2 separate regions of the Homo sapiens genome follow, and region 1 is linked to region 2. The links come from fine-mapping of genetic effects on gene expression. A gene starts in region 2. The other region holds a variant in brackets. All regions are shown on one strand. Distances are between the middles of the regions. Region 1 overlaps TVP23C-CDRT4 (TVP23C-CDRT4 readthrough). Region 2 holds the start of CDRT4 (CMT1A duplicated region transcript 4).

What was found. PIP is the estimated chance that this variant, and not a neighbour inherited with it, causes the effect.
Region 1: its variant is fine-mapped to the expression of CDRT4 in visceral fat (GTEx, PIP above 0.99). The same link has a PIP of 0.9 or more in unexposed skin.

The regions. Positions count from the first base shown.
Region 1 is chr17:15,499,649-15,504,822 of GRCh38, forward strand. The region is part of intron 4 of TVP23C-CDRT4 (TVP23C-CDRT4 readthrough); the gene reads right to left. It also overlaps a transcript of TVP23C not described here. Among named protein-coding and RNA genes, the nearest start is that of CDRT3, 31 kb to the left of the region's middle. The variant T/C (reference allele first, on the strand shown) is at 2,791.
Region 2 is chr17:15,464,701-15,469,874 of GRCh38, forward strand. It overlaps CDRT4 (CMT1A duplicated region transcript 4), which reads right to left and starts at 2,921. Exons shown (of 4, transcript NM_001204477.2): 1 at 2,760-2,921. The region is part of intron 4 of TVP23C-CDRT4 (TVP23C-CDRT4 readthrough); the gene reads right to left.

The sequences.
Region 1 (5,174 bases), 35 kb after region 2:
TTGACCTCCAGCAAATCACCCAGTGCCTCAGTTTCCCCACCGTAAAAGTAGCTCAGAAATGTGATGACTCAAGCCCCCAAAGAAATTCTGGGTAGTTTTGTGTGTCTTCAACACTGCTGAGTGTTTTTTCCAGGTGGCTGGATGACAAATCTTCCTCTAGGATATGTGGGGTTGTAATTTGCCCTCAGAGATGCAGGTGCCCCAGGAGTCTCCTTTAACAAATGAAAAGCCGGTCTCTGCCACATGCCAGGATGCTTGTGAACATCACAGAGGCCACCCGAACCCTATCACAGACCTTCCCTGCTCTGGTGGCTATTAACTCTCCTTCTGAGAAAAACCTCTGAGGATCGGAGCCCACATTTTGTTCAGGGATCCAGCCTGGGCTATTGCCCCAGCTCCAGGAAAGAAGGAGCTGCATGCCTTCTCTGCTTCTATTCTGATTTTTTTTTTTTTTTTTTTTTTGAAGTGGAATCTCGCTCTGTCGCCCAGGCTGGAGTGCAGTGGCACGATCTTGGCTCACTGCAACTTCAACCTCCTGGGTTCAAGCGATTCTCCTGCTTCAGCCTCCCAAGTAGCTGGGACTACAGGTGTACGCCACCACAGTCAGCTAATTTTTGTATTTTTAGTAGAGACAGGGTTTCACCATATTGGTTAGGAGGCTGGTCTTGAACTCCTGACCTCGTGATCTGCCTCTAGGCCTCCCAAAGTGCTGGGATTACAGGTGTGAGCCACCACACCCAGCCCATTCTGATTTTTTAAAAACTGTCCCACATATCAACCCACCATGTTACCACCTGTTTTAACCAATTTGTATTGGAAGTAATGGGCAGAAAGTGTTAAGCTGTGCCGCATATTATGAAATATGACCAGCCCACCCTGGAACACTTTGCAAGGCTCTATCACCTCCACATCCTACTTAACCCTTATAGCTGTCCCAGGAGAGCCCACTCCCTCCACCATTGTATAGACACAGAACTGCTGCACAAAGAACAGAACATAAGCAATTTGGTCAAGATCACTGAAGCAACTGGGATTCGAACCTAGGACTTGCCTGACTCCAAATCCCAGCTATTAACACTTCACTCTGCCTCATCAGGGGGAGAGAAAAATTACATAAGCCAAGGAGAGGTGGTTACATGGAAAGCAAATAAAGAGGAGAAGTGAGTGATCTCAGCCATGGAAGGTTGACAATTCAGGCCATGCAATATATGCTTATTATTATGGTAGACTTCCTATTTGACCTCTTTGAACTTGTGAGATCACTTTAATTCTATAATTTACTTATTCATTCTTTCACTAAGAATTTGCTGAAAATTTATCATGTGTGAAAATGTCTTGTAAACTCTTTTTTTTTTTTTTCCCTGAGACAGAGTCTTGCTCTGTCGCCCAGAGCTGGAGTGCAATGGCGTGATCTCAGCTCACTGCAACCTCCGCCTCCCAGGTTCAAGCAATTCTCCTGCCTCAGCCTCCTGAGTAGCTGGGATTACACGCGTGCGCCACCACACCAGGCTAATTTTTGTATTTTTAGTAGACGGGGTTTCGCCATGTTGGCCAGGCTGGTCTTGGAATCCTGACCTCATGATCTGCCCACCTCGGCCCCCCAAAATGCTGGGATTACAGGTGGGAATCACCGCGCCTGGCCACAATTATTAATTTTTAAACCTGGTGAGAGATGCAAAAGATGTCTGCCCTTAAGGAATTTATAACTTGTTGAACCTAGAATACATATTTCCCTTCTTAGAACAAAAATCAAGCATCTTCTAATAAAAGTGGGAAGGTACAGGATGTAGCTAAAGCATTTCTGTCAGGGTTTTCCCACTGTCCCTTCCTGTTCATCACTGTCCCTTCCTGTTGACTCATTTCAACTTGGGATTCACTATGACCACTAGATCCTTTTCCTCTCTATTTCTCTTTAAGTCCATTCTAACCACCTGGACATTATTTAATCCCAAATTCACAATGCCCACCTTCCCAATCTTTAACTGACTTGGTGAGCTATTAACAAGAGTTCTATTTGACCCAACGACTCACGGAGGAAAGAAGAGAACTTCACATTTGTGGGACTGGCCACAATATGCACTCAGGAGCTGTAGGACTAATGGCCACTCCTCAGAGAGTCCTTGGGGTAAGTGAGGCATAACAGAGAGGCTAACTATAGTAAGTAAGTGGGCTGAGCCTGGCCTGGTTGCTCTCAGCCTTTTCCGCCACTCATTTCCATCAAAAGACTGCCTTTAGGAGCAACGGAGGTTAATGAAGCTGTCCACAATGGGGCAGCCAGCGGTAGTGCGACTGAAGTGGAAATCATGTGAGTTAGGTGAAAAAGTACAAACTGGCCTGATTCAGGGAGCTGCCACCCAGCTGGAGAACAGGTGTTACCTCTCAGTGGGCAGAGCTGCACAAGGCCAGATCCTCTCCCTTCTTAGTCACGAAGGTGCCCTCTGGCTCCAAGGGGAGGAGAGGGAACCAGACCTCACTCCCCAGGCCTCAGACCCCCCATCTCTCTCCATGTCCTTCCCGCTGTGACCTCCTTCAACGGTATAATCACTCAGCCTGTTAGGCACTAAGTAGTAAAACTGGTCAACCTTTAAAACCACTTTTCATTACGAAGGCCCAAAAAAAGATAAAAGATGAAATTTAATGGGGGGTGGGGGGGCACAAGAGGGTGATTGAAAAAAACACAGATAATTTCTGGAATTGGATCTGTTAAGCCTTACACATTAGTCCCCGCCCTCGGAAGTAAGGGCCTGTCATTCTGTAAAGGGACGCAGCCACACGCAGAGAAGGTGGAGG[T/C]CTCCACCCCTTCCCTCTTCGTCCTCGCCTAGGAGGGACCGTGGTGCCAGTAAAACAGGGACTGGCTGGCCCAGAGCCTTGGGGATCCCCTCCTTTGTCTGGAACCCTCTGGCTCACCGCATCCTTCCTCGGGGCCGCATGGCCCTGCCCCACAAAGCAGGCGTGCTGGGGGCTGCTTGGCCAGGAAAGCGGACGCTTGCAGGGACCACGCTGCTGCCTCTCTTCTGCCCTTTTCCCCTTAGTTTTACAAGTTCCCTGTTCGTTCGTTCTTTCTCTCTCTCCTCTCTCTCTCTTTCTCTCTCCTCTCTCCCGTCTCTTTCTCTCCTTCTCCGTCACTCTCTTCCCTCCCTCTCTCCTCTCTCCTCTCTCTCCTCTCTCTCTCTCTCTCTCTCTCCTGCGAGGAGCTTCAGATTTGTGGGTTGTTTTTAATGCATTCCGGATGCCAGATGAAATTTTGGCCCGGGCTCACCAGTTCCTCTGCTATTGGGACTCTCCCCACCTCCCCTCCAGGCCCAAAGCCGCAAGGAGAGAAATAGGCGGGCGGGCGCCATCTGTTGGCAGTTGCCTGGAGCCGCACGAAGAGGTGGAGAACTAAGGCGGGGCGCAGGTTTCCAGTAAAGAGCTCGATCCGTGATCCTCGTGAAAGAATTAATGTCTACCTGATGAAACTTCCTCGAGGGATGGCCCGGGCAGCGGCTCACGCCTGTTATCCCAGCGCTTTGGAAGGCGGAAGCGGGAGGATCTCTTGAGCCCAAGACTTTCAGACCAGTCTGGGCAATGTGGCGAGACCGTCTCTACAAAAAATAAAATAAAAATAAATTAGCCAGGTGTAGTGGCGCGCCTGTGGTTCCAGCTACTTGACAGGCCGAGATGGGAGGATCGCTTCAGCCCAGGAAGTCGAAGCTGCAATGAGCTGTGACCACGCCACTGCACTCCAGCCTGGGCGACAGAGCAAGACCATGATATTTCAAGAAAAGTCCTTGAGGCAAAAGGTGACCTGCTTTAGAACGCCTCAGTGCTTAGACATGAACAGTGAAGGGGACTGAAGATTGTTGGAACACGGTGCAGAACCCTCTTAGTCTCGTTTTGTTGCCTTATTATGTTCTATTTCAACTTTCAAAAAAAATTGCTGGCATTAGCATGTCGAAAAATTGGTGACATTAGAATGTCAAATTCTTTGAAGGATGGGGATTTTTGCATTCAGTTTTGTGTTCACCAAAATAAGCTAGCAGGAGATTCTGTGCAAGTTGACTTATAAGTATATGGTTTGCTGAAATCTTATGAGGAGAGGGAAATGTAAAGTAAATGAAGTGGAAATAAGTGGTTGTTATGGTTAGGAAAAGGCCATCGTAAGGCTTCATGGCTAGCATGCAGGCCACCGAAGTTCTATCCCAAACAGAAGGAAGCTCTTGTAGGATGGTGAGTTATGGTAGGGTTCTAGGAGGAGTGGGTGTCAGCCTTTTGGGAGGGGGAATGGAAGGGCTGGGAAGGGTGGGAGGAAGTGAATGAAGTTCCAAAGCCAGGAAGCTAGGCACAACCCTGTGAGTAGTACCAATACCTAAGGATGGTTTCTCAGGGACACTCAGAAAAAAGAGCCCAGTCTCCTGAGAGCAAGCATGCAGCCCTATCCCCACATTTTCCCCTGAACATGGTCCTGTCCACCAAATCAGGCCTGAGGATCCTGAAACACCTCCAGGCCCTGGGCCCTCACCCACTAGACAGCCCAGGAACCAGGAGCCTAGGCCTGAATAATGGGAAGCTCTGGTACTGGGCTTTATATTCCTGCATTTTCAACAGGAACAAGACTATGATGTGTGGGGTTTCACACCCTTTCTCCCTCCCTTTTCCTCTCAGAGCCACCTTTGTCTTTGCCAATTTGTCCCTGGGGTTTGGTGACACAGAGGCAGTGGCCAGAAAAGAGAGGCAGAATTGAAGTCGTGGTCATGGGGCTTTTGCTTCTGGACAAGGCTAAGATTTACTTGGATATGAACATAAAAATAAGGAGTTGCTGGAAGAGAAGAGCTGCGCTTTGGATGGGTTTATTAAGAGTTGAGAGCGCGGAAGATGAGGCAGCTTTGGAAATCAGCTGCAGTAGCATGAAGGATACTGAGAATCATTTTAATAAAGACAATTTTTTTTTAAGAGACAGGGTCTCGTGCTTTGGCCCAGGCTAGAGTGCAGTGGGGTGATCACAGCTCACTGAAGCCACAACTTCCTGGGCTCAAGCTGGGACTACAGGCACGCACCACCATGCCCAGCACATTTTTAAAATTTTTTTGTAGAGACAAGGTCTCACTATTTGGCCCAGCTTGGTCTCAAACCCCTAGCCTCAAATGATCCTCTCTCCTCAGCCTCCCAAAGTGCTGAGATTACAGGTGTGAGCC
Region 2 (5,174 bases):
CTCTAAACAATTCTTCCATTGACCCCCAAGCTTCCGTTACTTGTATTTTGCTCCTTTTCTCTGCCAAAATCCCCCAGCGAATGGCCCATACCAGCGGTTGCTCTTTCACTCACTCCAGCCTGGCATCCACACTCGCAGCTCTGCTGACAGCCAGCACAGAAAGGAACCAGCAGGGATACGGGAACAGAGGCACAGACATCAAGCAGGGTTCAAGAAAGTGCAAGTGGGTGCAACACACACACACACCAACACACAGACACACACACCAACAGACACACCAACACACAGACACACGCAATACAGACACACACAACACAGACACACACCAACACACAGACACACATAACACAGACACACACCAACACAGACACACACCAATACAGACACACACAACACAGACACACACCAACACACAGACACACCAACACACAGATACAAACACAGACACACCAACACACACACACCAACACACAGACACACAACACACATACCAACACAGACACACCAACAGACACACACCAACACACAGACACACACAACAGACACACACCAACACACACAACACACACACCAACACAAACACACACCAACACCAGACACACCAACACACAGACACACACAACACAGACATGCACAACACAGACACATACCAACACCAGACACACCAACACAGACACACATAACACACACACCAACACACACACACAACACACACCAACACAGACATACACCAGTACCAGACACACCAACACACAGACACACATAACGGAGATACACATCAACACCAGACATACAAACACAGACACACACAACACAGACCCACACCAATACCAGACACACCAACACAAACACACACAACAAAGACACTTAGGTACAAACACACACACCAACACACAGACACACATACACCAGCACAGAGATACACACCAAGACATTCATACAACACAGACACACACGCACAAAGATACACACAACACACAAAACACACAAACACACAGTCATATCACAAACACGGAGACACATATGCCTACACATGCACAGACACGCATGCTAACGCCTTCCAATATGGCAGCCAAGGGGCTCTTGCTGTGGTCAGGGAAGAGGGGGAGGGAGCCTGGCCATCCACCGTGGGGAGGACATGCAGCGCGCATCGTGAGGACTCCAGACCCCTGAGGGTGGTAGCAGCAGGAGGGCAACAGAGGATCCTAGAGTTGCTGCACCTGGGGGCAGATCCAGTTGTTACAGGGCCTGAGCATTCTACAGCTGGTGGGGAAACCCTCTTTGTGCCCTGCACAAGTGGTAAGCACTTAGAAGACATCCCTGAAGGAGGGAGAGAAAGGGAGGGAGAGGGAGGGAAAGGGAGGGGGAGGGAGGGCAGAGCCTACCAGGAAGCCTGGAGGAAGCCTGCGACCTGGGACCCAGGTCAGCTCCCTGACCCAGGCCAGTGGGTGAACTGACAAGTGACAGAGTCTGGATTTGAACCCAGGGACTCGGCTGCCCATGTTCTTAACCTGCGTCACCTATCTGCCTCTCTCATACTGACTCAATGTAGCTCAAACAAGTGTAAAGCAAGAGCTTCCAGCACAAACAGTGGGCTTCGGGCTCAGGCCTCCAGAAACACTGCCTGGGGTGGGAGCCTGGGCGCTGGGCCAGCTTCCACCCAGATGGGGAGAAGGGAAGGGCTGCCTCATCTGCAGAAACGAGTCTCTTCTGTTCTCTTCTCCCCACCCCTATCTACACCAAGGTGCATTCATGGATCGCAAGGTTTCTTACTAATTTTTTGTTTCATTCACTGGTGTCTTTTATTCCTTGTTCTAAATTACTTTTTTTAATTTTTACTTTTATAGAGACAGTCTCACTGACACCCAGGCTGGAGTGCAGTGGCACGATCATGGCTCACTGCAGCCTCAAACTCCTGGGCTCACACAGACACACACTCAATACAGACACACACCTGGACTCAAGGGGCCCTCCTGCCTCAGCCTCCAGAGTAGCTGGGACTACAGGTGCACACCAATGCCCAGCTAATTTATTTTTATTTTTATTTTTGTAGAAACGGGGTCTTGCTATGTTGCCTAGGCTGGTCTTGAGTTCTCGGCCTCAAACAATCCTCCTGCCTCAGCCTCCTTAAGTGGTGGGATTACAAGCATGATTAATTATTTTTAAATAAGTGACTTGATTATTATTGTTTTGTAAAAATCCTCTTAGTCACCTTTGTCCCTATAGGTTTCTATAGGTGCTTAATAATTTTTTAAAGGTATTTACCAGTTCTGGCTAAACATTCCTTTGGTCCTGAGCTCTGTGGAGAGGTAATGCATCTGTGGGAACATCATCACCCTCATCCCCAACCCATCACCCCCAGGGGATGGGGGGGAACGGGGGTATATTTTGTGTGTGTGTGTTTTGCTTAAGTAGAGTGGTCAGCCCTGAGTGTACAATAGAATCACCTGGCTGTCATTATAGACATACCTGAGCTCAAGCCCTCTGCAGACAAAGTAAATCAGAATCCTAGGAATGGGACGAGCTTGTTGGCAAGGGTTGGGCATCAGTACGTTTTACAAAGTCCTGAGGGGATTGGGTGACCAGGATTGGGATCCACTTAAGGGAAGTAATGCTGGGGACTCTGGGGACCCTTTAATGGCAGGATTATTCTTTGATGAAGGACCTGACCTTCTCCTGGAAGTTGAGTGTGAGCCTTTTCACTTTCACCCTCGACTTCCCTCTCTGGGGACACCCAGTGTTCTGGCCCAGACTGTTACCTGAGAAGTTTCTGTGATTCCCCATCCTTCCTGCACTATCTTGGCTGTTCCCCTGCCCGGCGTTTATATTTTGTCTCCAGCTGTCCCCTGTGCTCTCAATCCCACTTCTCTTTGGCTCTCTCTTTGCTGCAGCTAACCATCCTCTTGCCCCTGCCCCAAAGTGACCCATGAGCCAGAAGTCAGGAGTGAAGGGGGGCACTGTGACATCAGAAGTTGCCATGCACCCCCTCCTGAATCTTCTGCCCTGCTCTCTTCCTCCTCTGCAGGCTCAGCGGTCACCAGCAATGCAGTCCTCAAACACGGACATTAGAGTGATTATTCCCACCCCCAAGAGTGAACACCTACTATGTGCTGGACCCTAGACCAAACACATACACACATAAAGATACACAACACACACACATGCACACACACACACCCCAACATGCATGACCTCATTTGAGATCTCTGATCATTTCAACAAGCAGTTACTCTGGCCCAGACGCAGCCAACTACAGAGATAGACAAGACCTGTGGTCTCTTTCCTTAGTGCCAGAATCTCCTAGAAGGTCTATTAAGACAGATTGCTGGGTCCCACTCCCAGGGTCTCTGATTCAGTATATGTGGGGTGGGGCCCAAGAACTTGCCTTTCTAACAAGCTCTCAGCCTTCTTCTGAAATAAAATCCTCTTTAGATAAGCTGGAGAGAGAATGGCTGTCACTAACAGGCTGTTGAGAATTAGCCTCCTTCTCCCCAACTCCATTGACCGGCCAGTGCTTGGCAATGGAGAGAGCGAGCAGCTTCTAACCTCCCCTGTGGCCCCAACCGTGAAAAAGTCCCCAAGATGCCAGGAGGACACAGTGCAGAGCAGGCTGTAAAGTCTGGCAGTTTAATTGCAGTCATCAACTCGGGGCAGCACCAGGAGACAGGCTGGACTTGCTCTCCCTGTGTTATCATCATGCCCTGTTGACAATCCTTTGAAATGTCTCTCCCTGTGTCTGTTCCTTCTGCTCCTCTCCACTCCCCCACCACCTCTCCAATCCCAGAGTTCAACCTGTCCAGCCAGGAATGTAAAGTCCCCTCACTTCTCTGCAACCACAGCAAGCACTTGAGCTTCCTCCAAATCATACTGACTCAATCATATATTTCCCACGATCTCCTTTTCTTCATAGTTCTCTATAATCTTCAGAGAGAGGTGCATTCTAGAAAAAGGCCAGGCAGAAAACACCTGTGTTTCAGCCTCAGTTTTATCATTTAGTTGTAAGAAAACATACATCAAGTGGATCCCCAACAAAAATCTACCTCTCCTCACTGCCCACGAGTCAGTACCTAGAGCCTCAGGCAGAGCCCTCATTGCTGCGGTTCTCAAAAAGCCTTTCTCTATCCTCCCCTCTCTCCAGGCTCTAGTTCCTCTTCAACTCCAGCCCTAAACTCCCTGAATTCATTCTCGCTCTGGAGCTCCCGTGTCAGCGGAGCCATGCCTTCAACCTTTCCATGGGCCCCTATTTTGTGGCTCAGTGTCCCTGAGCCCTGAGTATCTCCATTCAGTTCTTCAAACAAGTTCTAGACAAGGGAAGGATCTGAGCAAAGTCACGGAGGTGCGGGACAGCCTGGGCGTCTGGAAATGCTACGGGAAATGCACAGGTGAGGGGGATGGGGGGGAGTTGGGGTGGGCCAGTCTGACAAGGTTCTGCTCTCTCTCCCAGCAAGTCTGGGGAAGACAGTGGACATCTTTGAGTGCACAGGCCAGGTGTGAAGTGTAGCGGATGAGCAGGGGACCTCCCCTGTGGTTCCACAAGAACCTCCAAAGACTCACCCCAGAAGTCTTCTGCAGCTTGAAGTGACTCTCTGAGCTGCTTATACCTAGCGCTGATGTGCAATGGGCCAGGGCCCGGCAGGGAGCCAGACCCTCGGACTCGAGAAAGCCATTTGAGAGTGACATCAGCCCACCACCTGCTAGTGCGCACTCACAGTGTTTCCGGAAGCCATGATGCTAATCATGTCTGTTTCTGTGTTGTCCATGGCAAGACTCCAAGCCCAGAAAAGAAAATCTGTAGCCCAAGTTATTTTCCTCCCACAGGGCTTGCCTGGCCTTTGATTGTTGGCTTTGGGGAGGTGCATTTCTCCCTCCTCTGTGGGCAGCAAATTCCCCGTGAGTCAACAGATCCTGTATCTGGGCTCACCATGGGCTTCTACTGGCACTGAGAAGGGGCAAGCTGAGCAAACATGCAATGTGACCCCAGTGCTGACCAACCCAGAGATGCCCCATGGGACTCAGGGACTTGACCTCAGTGCTTCTGGGGTCCCTCAGTGTATCTTGCTGGCCTCAGCACTGGGCTGCTTGGTAACCTCCCCACAGGCAGGTACTAAGTGCAGCCAGCCCCTTCATTCAAGGCAGAATGAATTAAAAAGCTGGGGTTCCAGAGTTGGCTCCAG